Regions from separate parts of the Homo sapiens genome. Here region 1 is linked to region 2. Evidence: fine-mapped expression QTL. A gene starts in region 2. The other region holds a variant in brackets. All regions are shown on one strand. Distances are between the middles of the regions.

Region 1 (4,383 bases), 6.8 kb before region 2:
CAAGATTGCTGGCCAGGTGCGGTGGCTCACGCCTGTAATCCCAGAACTTTGGGAGGCCGAGGTGGGCGGATCACCTGAGGTAAGGAGTTTGAAACCAGTCTGGCCAATATGGTGAAACCCCATCTCTACTAAAAAACACACAAAAAATTAGCCAGGCCCGGTGATGGATGCCTGTAATCCCAGCTACTTAGGAGGCTGAGGCAGGAGAATCGCTTGAACCCGGGAGGCGGAGGTTGCAGTGAGCCAAGATCGCGCCACTGCACTCCAGCCTGTTGACAGAGCAAGACTCTGTCTCAAAAAATAAAAAAAACAAGATAGCTACCTGCAAGAGGCGTTGAGTGGGGTCCAAACAAGCTGGCAGCCAAGATGTCAATAGTGTGATAGGGACCAGATGGAGACAAGCCCAGGGTGGCAGCTGTTACGGTAATTTCACCTAGTACCTTTTCCTTCATGACTACTTCCACACCTCCCATGTCCAACCTGAAGAGAATATCCAGAATGGCCCATCCGAATTCACCATTCCTTAAACTTCCAATCTCCCTCCAGCATTTTCTACCTCCAGGACTGCCTTAACTGTCCATTGAGGTGGCCAAGGCGGAAACATGTGCATCCACCCTCCATCCTACGCACTTCATCAAAACCACCATCTTGGATCAAGTCCAGGTGAATCCTACTCCCATCTGTCTTTTCCATCCCTTGCTCCTGTTTGGTTCTCAGCTTTCATAAGCTAACACGAGAACCTCCTCCATGACTAGCTTCCACCCCCACGCTCTCTAATCTGTCCTCCATTTTGCCCTCAAGTGAGTTTCCGATCGCAAGCTTCCCTGAGCAAAAGCTTCTCAGGTTGCTATATACTGAAAATTTTCATGGCCAGATGCAGTGGCTCACATCTGTAATCCTAGCACCTTGGGAGTCTGAGGCATGAGGATCGCTTGAGCCCAGGAGGTGGAGACCAGCCTGGGCAACATAGTGAGACTCCATCTCTATAAAAAATTTCAAAAAATAAAAAAATCAGGCCGGGTGCAGTGGCTCACAACTGTAATCCCAGCACTTTAGGAGGCCAAGGTGGACGGATCACAAGGTCAGGATATCGAGACCATCCTGGCCAACATGGTGAAATCCCGTCTCTACTAAAATACAAAAAATTAGCCGAGCACGGTGGCACACGCCTATAGTCCCAGCAACTCGGGAGGCTGAGGCAGGGGAATCGCTTGAACCCGGGGGGTTGCAGTGAGCCGAGATCGCGCCACTGCACTCCAGCCTGGGCAACAGAGTGAGACTCTGTCTCAAAAAGTAGTAATAAAATAAAAAATTTTTAAAAATTATGTGGAATGTGGTGAGGCACACCTGTAGTTCCAACTACTCAGGAGGCTAAGGTGGGAGGATTGCTTGAGCCCAGCTATGACCACACCACTGCTCTCCAGCCTGGGTGAAAGAGACTCGTCTAAAAAAAAATTTTTTTTCATAATTCATAACAAAGTGCTGGCGGGGGGGGGGACGGTTAGGAAATATCCTGGGGTGTATCATTGGTGGAAGCAATAGACCATTTAAACTAGCTTAAATAAAGAAGGAATTTACTGGCCTGTGTAAGTTAAGTCCAGGACCCTTTCTGATTTCTGTCCTGGGAAAAGCAGAAAATCCCCTCCACCCAACAAGAAAATAAAGTCCTAGGCTTGACTTGCATTGGCCCATATCATGTCAAGGGCTAGCCCAAGTCAATCACTATGGCCAGAGGGATGGCTGTGCTGAAAGGCTTAGCCCTAAATCACCCAAACCTAAGGATACAGTAGATTCAACTCCACCAGAACTACTTTCCTGAGAATAGATAAGGTGTGGGACTTCAAAATACTGGGGACTGGCACTGGAATCAGGGTGAACAAATACTGAGAAACTCACAGCTTGGCCATTATTTTTCTCATTTTGCCTGAAAATTTCCTTCCCAGGCTCCACTTGAGCTTCGTCTTGCTTGCTCCCCACTCTCCACCCAGAAGAGATGGAAAACCTGGCCAGTGCCATGGGTCCACTACTGAACTCCAGGCTGGGGTGTGGTCAGTCCATGGATAGCCGTGAATACTCCCAGGTGCTGGGATTTTAGGACAGGGACGAAGTTATAAACAGGAGCAGGGAGGTGTATTAGTTTCCTACTGATGTTGTAACAAATCACCACAAACTTGGTGGCTGAAAACAAGACAAGTTTATTTTCTTACAGTCCTGGAAGTCAGAAATCTGAAATGGCTCACTGACAAGGGGTTGGCAGGACCGCATCCCTTCTGGAGGCTCCAGGGGAGAATCCATTTTCTTGCTTTTTTCAGCTCCCAGAGCCTGCCTGCATTCCCTGGCTCATGACCGTCTTCCGTATTCAAAGCCGGTGATGGCTGGTTAAGTCTTTCAGTCATTGCATCACTCTGCCTCTGACTCAGCCACCTCACTATTCCACAGTTAAGGACCCTTGTGATTACATTGGGTCCACCCAGATAATCCAGGATCATCTCCTTATCTTAAGGTCAGCCCATTAGCAACCTTACTGCCATCTGCAACCTTACTTCTCCCTGGTCATGTAATATAACATATTCGCAGGTTTCCGGGGTGACATTATGAACATTTTGGG[G/C]GGGGAATGTCTTTTAAATTCTCTCATTCTGGAACCAGTCCTTACAGCAGAGAGAGGGCGAGGTTCCTAAGGAGTTTTGTAATGGGGCCCTTGAGATTTCAGCACCCCAGCATTTTAATTTTTTCCTGAGCAATTAATACTTAAAATTTTAAAGTTTTTTGTATATATTTGTGGGGTATATATGATGTTTTGATACAAGCATGCAATGTGAACTAATCACATAATGGAGAATGGAGTGCCCCCCAGCATTTTTAGTGACTAAAAAAATGAGAATTCTGATCACAGGCCAGGCACGGTGGCTCAAGCCTATAATCCCAGTACTTTGGGAAGCCAAGGCAGGATGATCACCTGAGCCCAGGAGTTCAAGACCAGCCTGGGTAACATAGTGGGATCTCATCTCTACAAAAATTAGTCGGGTGTGGTTGGTGCACACCTGTGGTCCTAGCTACTCAGGAAGCTGAGGTAGGAGGATCACTTGAGCCCAGATCAAGGTTGCAGTGAGCCCTGGTCATGCCACTGAACTCCTGTGGGGAAAAGAAAGAGAGATCAGATTGTTACTGTGTCTGTGTAGAAAAAAGTAGACATAGGAGACTCCATTTTGTTCTGTAAGAAAAATTCTTCTGCCTTAAGATGCTGTTAATCTGTAACCCTACCCCCAACCCTGTGCTCCCTGAGACATGTGCTGTGTCAACTCAGGGTTAAATGGCTTAAGGGCTGTGCAAGGTGTGCTTTGTTAAACAAATGCTTGAAGGCAGCATGCTTGTTAAGAGTCATCACCACTCCCTAATCTCAAGTACCCAGGGACAAAAAACACTGCGGAAGGCCGCAGGGACCTCTGCCTAGGAAAGCCAGGTATTGTCCAAGGTTTCTCCCTATGTGATAGCCTGAGATTTGGCCTCGTGGGAAGGGAAAGACCTGACCGTCCCCCAGCCCGACACCCGTAAAGGGTCTGTGCTGAGGAGGATTAGTAAAAGAGGAAGGAATGCCTCGTTGCAGTTCAGACAAGAGGAAGGCATCTGTCTCCTGCTCATCCCTGGGCAATGGAACGTCTCGGTGTAAAACCCGATTGTATATTCCATCTGCTGAGATAGGGGAAAACCGCCTTAGGGCTGGAGGTGGGACATGCGGGCAGCAATACTGCTCTTCAAGGCATTGGGATGTTTATGTGTATACATATCTAAAGCACAGCACTTAATTCTTTACCTTATGATGCAGAGACCTTTGTTCACTGTTTACCTGCTGACCTTCTCTCCACTATTATCCTATGACCCTGCCACATCCCCCTCTCCGAGAAACACCCAATAATGATCAATAAATACTAAGGGAACTCAGAGGCTGGGGGGATCCTCCGTGTGCTGAACGCCGGTCCCATGGGCCCCCTTTTTTCTTTCTCTATACTTTGTCTCTGTGTCTCTTTCTTTTCCAAGTCTCTCGTTCCACCTAACGAGAAAAACCCACAGGTGTGGAGGGGCAACCCACCCCTTCACACTCCAGCCTGGGTGACAGAATGAGACCTTGTCAAAAAGAAAAAAAAAAAGAAAAAAAATTCTGATCAGGCCGATGCTTGCTTGCACGTGCTAACCACTCACTTTTTGCCCAATATTCCTTGTTCCCACAATATAAACTGCTGATGTGCTGTTTCTTGGTCAAGCAGGAAGAGGTAACTTTGTGGTCATGAAAAAAAATTGCAGGCCAGGCACAGTGGCTCATGCCTGTAATCCCAGCACTTTGGGAGGCCGAGGTGGGTGAATCACCCGAGGTCTGGAGTTCAAGAC
Region 2 (4,383 bases):
CTGGGAGGCTGGGGTGTAGTGACTGGGAGCTAACCGGATTAGACAGCCATCAGTAATACTGTAGGAAGGGCATCCTTGTAGGGTGGGGCCACTACGACCAGTACGGCTCACCCAGGTGTAGACAGACGCTGGTAGCTCCTGGCCAGCTCAAGGTGTTTCCTTTTGCCTGGTAACCAGGAGGAGTGGCTGAGGCAGGGCATGGAGCGGAGCAACGCAGCTACAAAGTGCGGAGAGGAGCCCCGCTCTGGATCCCGCCGGCTCCCCAAGGCTGAAGGAGACAAGTGAGTGGGGAGTCACTGGGAAGAGCATCCCGGCGGAGGGCTTGAAAAGGCTCCTTATTGTCTGCTGGGAGCCTGAGGCTCTGCCCGACCTTGGGACAAGAGGCTAGGCGGGGAGCTGAATGTTCGATTTGGGATGAATTCCCCCAAAGCCATGAACCGGCGTCCCGGGGAACCGGCCCACAGGGACAGGAGGCGGTTAAGTAGAAAGTCTGTCTACATATCCCTTCCTCCGCCGCAGGTCTGGATCCGCAGGAGCCCCCAGTAAGAACAGCAGCCGCCTGGGGGGCCGACCATGTATGTGTACAGCTGGCCGCCGCCCAAACAGGGCGTCTGGCCGCCGCCGCCGCAGCTGCTCACCTGCACCTACCTGGCCGCCCCTCTGCTGCTACCCCCAGTCCAGGCCCACAGCTTCCGCAGCCGGCCCGGGAGCCTGCATGCGGGCGAGTGGGCGGCCCCACGGGAATACCACCGCTTCTACGGCCCCGCCGCGCCACCCGAGGCCGCGCCGCCCTGGTGGGCCTGCCCTCCGGCCTACGCCACGACCCTGCGCCGGCCCTGCGCCGCCGCCGGCATCTCGGGACTGTCGCTGCAGGCGCCCGCGGCGGTGGCCGAGAGCTGGGCGCCGTGGCCGGAGGGCGGGAGCCTGCAAACCGAGCTGCGCTGGGGCCGCGTGGAGCGCGCGCGGGGCCCCCCTCTGCAGCTACCGGACTTCGTGCGCCGGGAGCTGCGGCGCGCGTACGGCACCTACCCCCGCGCCGACGTGCGCGTCACCCAGCGCCGCGGCCAGTTCCTGCTGCAGGCGACGCCGCGCGTGCTCGAGCCCGACCACCGCGTGGAGTGGCGCGTGCGGCGCCGGCCCGACAGCGGCGACAGCAGCCCAGCCCGGGAAGCCGCGGAGCGCGGCCGCCCCAGGAAGAGCAAGGGCCTGAGCTGAAGCCGCCGCAAGGCCTAGGGGCGGGCCCGCGTGCACGCGCTTGGCTCTTTCCTGTGTGTGCCGCCGCCGACAGGCAGAAGTGAGCCCTCACCTGTGCGCGGGAGGCGGACGCGCTGCTCACCTGTCTTTTTGGCTTCTCCCATGACTGCCGGCCAGTTTCCTGCACTTGTTTCTCTCGCTTTATTGCTGGACGGTGGGAGAAGGGCAAGTGCAAGACGGAATCGAGGGCACCTCTGGGTGTTCTGTACCTCTTTTCTTCTTGCACCTTGGGAAGTGGAGGACGTGGGATGGAAGAAGGGCCTGGACCTCCCTCCTTCCTCCTCCCCACCTTCTCCTAAGGAGCTTGCCCTGCAGTAAGCCCCAACTTTCCCTTCCTCTTTTCCCTCTATCAGAGTCGTCGCCCACCCCCCTTTCCCACCGCTCCCCTACCCCCGCCTTCCTGCCAAGCCGAGGGCGACGGTGATCCCCAGCTTAGTAAGAAAAGTAAATAGGCCGGGCGCGGTAGCTCACGCCTGGAATCCCAGCACTGTGGGAGGCCGAGGCGGGCGGATCGCTTGAGCCCAGGAGACCAGGTTGGAGACCAGCCTAGGCAACATGGCGAAACCCTGTCTCTACAAAAAAAAAAAAAAAAAAAAATAGCCGGGTGTGCTGATACACTACTGTAGTCCCACCTACTCGGGAGGCGGAGATGGGAGGATCACCTGAGCCCGAGAGGGCGGGGCTGCAAGGAGCCGCGAACGCACCACTGCACTCCAGCCTGGGTGACTGAAACCCTGTCTCAAAAACAAAAACAAACAAAAAAAAAAACAATAAATAAATGAGCGAAGTCAAGTATACACTGCGAGATCATTGTTATGTTTTGGGGTGGTGTTTCTCCATCTGTTTATCTGTTTAATGGGAGTCTTACCGCCCACCCTGGGGTACAGGAAGGTAGGGTGGAGGGGCGTGAAGTTGAACTGGCCCTCTGGAGAAAGCATGTGTCTGATCGCTGGGCCCAGCTGCCCTCTTCACCATCTCCCTCCAAGTGTGCAGGCCAGCACCTTCTAACTCTCCTTGGTCCTTTGGCCCACCACCCTCCGAGATGCTGAGGGCATAAGCTCTATTTTTGAAGTGTGGAAGGCTTCACTAGGAGAGGGATGTCTGAGACCTGAGTTTAGGGCTGGCTCTGACATTTTCTACCTGTGTAACTTAAGGCTTTCTGACTCTCAGTTTCTTCATCAGTAAAAGAGGCGTAAAAGTAACCCAGCCTAATTGGAAGTTAAGATGAATGTCTCGGCCCGGCCTAATTGGAAGTTAAGATGAATGTCTCCGCCCGGCGCGGTGGCTCATGCCTGTAATCCCAGCACTTTGGGAGGCCAAGGTGGGCGGATCACGAGGTCAGGAGATCCAGACCATCCTGGATAACACGGTGAAACCCCGTCTCTACTAAAAATACAAAGAATTAGCCGGGCGAGGTGGTGGGCGCCTGTAGTCCCAGCTACTCGGGAGGCTGAGGCAGGAGAATGGCGTGAACCCGGGAGGCGGAGTTTGCAGTGAGCCGAGATGGCCCCACTGCACTCCAGCCTGGGCGACAGAGCGAGACTCCGTCTCAAAAAAAAAAAAAAAAAAAAAAGATGAATGTATCTTCTTGTCTCCCAATTCTTGCTAATAATCGTTAATTCTTAATAGGCTGAGGTTTGCAATATTCTAGGAGTTTTCTGGAATGTTAGGCCACATAGCCAATTTTAACTAGGATCTAGCCAGATTTGAGGCCCAGCTGTAGAAATTTCTTTTACTGAACTTCCATTTGTAACTGACCAATAGTTACCTGGGTATACACAGGTGAGTTATTGAAGCTGTAGGCCAGCTGATTGGGCACTGCTGTATTTGTGAGCTTCTTGGAGAAGTTGTCTCAAACCTCAGCCCTTGGAAAAGGTGTTTCTCCTGATCAGTGGTTTGCTTTTGTCTTTTAAGCGCTACGAATCTCATTACTGATCATATTTTTCTTTTGGTCCTGGTTTCCAAGGAGCTCAGAGCCAAATTTGCTTTGTGTCTTTTTTTTTTTTTTTTTTTGAAACAGAGTCTCACTCTGTTGTCCAGGCTGCAGTGTAGTGGCATGATCTCAGCTCACTGCAGCTGCAACCTCCACCTCCTGGTTCAAGCGCTTCTCCTGCCTCAGCCTTCCAAGTAGCTGGGATTATAGGTGTGTGCCACTACGCCCAGCTAATTTTTGTATTTTTAGTAGAGATGGGGTTTTCCCATGATGGCCAGGCTGGTGTCAAACTCCTGGCCTCAAGTGATCTGCCCGCCTTGGCCTCATTAAGTGCTGGGATCACAGGCATGGCCACCGTGCCCGGCCTGCTTAGTGTCTTTTATATAAAACCTGCATCCTGAACTCTGTTATCCCTAGTTTCACCTTATTTTTCCTTTGTAAAAAATTATAAAACACAAGAAGGTGAGGTGGCATAGTGTGATGGGTCTGCTGTGTGACCTTGGGCAAATTAATGTCCATGAAACAGTTTCCCCATCCCAAATGGGGATGATGATACAAAAACCTATCTCATGAGGTTATTGAGAAGATGCCATGACATCTGTGTTTCTACAGTGCACAGAAAGCATTTACCACGGTGCCTGGCATGTGTTAAGTGCTAAAATGTTAGTGTTTGTTTGTTTGTTTGTTCGTTTTGAGATGGAGTCTCAGTCTGTCACCCAGGCTGGAGTGCAGTGGCACAATCTTGGCTCACTGCAACCTCTGCCTCCTGGGTTCCAGCGATTCTCCTGCCTCAGCCTCCCAAGCAGGTGGGACTATAGGCATGCGCCACCACACCCGGCTAATTTTTTTTTTCTTTTTTTGAGGTGGAGTCTGGCTCTGTCTCCCAGGCTGGAGTGCAGTGGCATGATCTTGACTCACTGCAACCTCTGCCTCCTGGGATTCTCTGCCTCAGCCTCCCAAGTAGCTGGGATTACAGGAGCACGCCACCATGCCTGGCAAATTTTTTTGTATTTTTAGTATGGACAGGGTTTCACCATCTTGGCCAGGCTGGTCTTGAACTCCTGACCCCGTGATCCACCCACCTCAGCCTCCCAAAGTGCTGGGATTACAGGCATGAGCCACCACGCCCAGCCTGTATTTTTTTTTTTTTTAGTAGAGATGGGGTTTCACCATATTGGTCAGGCTGGTCTTGAACT

Evidence for each region. PIP is the estimated chance that this variant, and not a neighbour inherited with it, causes the effect.
Region 1: its variant is fine-mapped to the expression of C10orf95-AS1 in whole blood (TOPMed, PIP 0.98).

The regions. Positions count from the first base shown.
Region 1 is chr10:102,454,086-102,458,468 of GRCh38, reverse strand. C10orf95-AS1 (C10orf95 antisense RNA 1) reads right to left here. Exons shown (of 3, transcript NR_038938.1): 3 at 2,176-3,132. Among named protein-coding and RNA genes, the nearest start is that of C10orf95, 4.7 kb to the right of the region's middle. RefSeq lists enhancers at 1,145-1,733, 1,734-2,321, 2,322-2,911, 2,912-3,499, 3,500-4,088. The variant G/C (reference allele first, on the strand shown) is at 2,609.
Region 2 is chr10:102,447,284-102,451,666 of GRCh38, reverse strand. C10orf95-AS1 (C10orf95 antisense RNA 1) reads right to left here and starts at 1,850. Exons shown (of 3, transcript NR_038938.1): 1 at 1,645-1,850; 2 at 1,337-1,480. It overlaps C10orf95 (chromosome 10 open reading frame 95), which reads left to right and starts at 124. Exons shown (of 2, transcript NM_001363580.1): 1 at 124-281; 2 at 520-1,830. The coding sequence starts at 574. The coding sequence ends at 1,215. RefSeq lists an enhancer at 1-157 and silencers at 680-1,169, 1,210-1,289.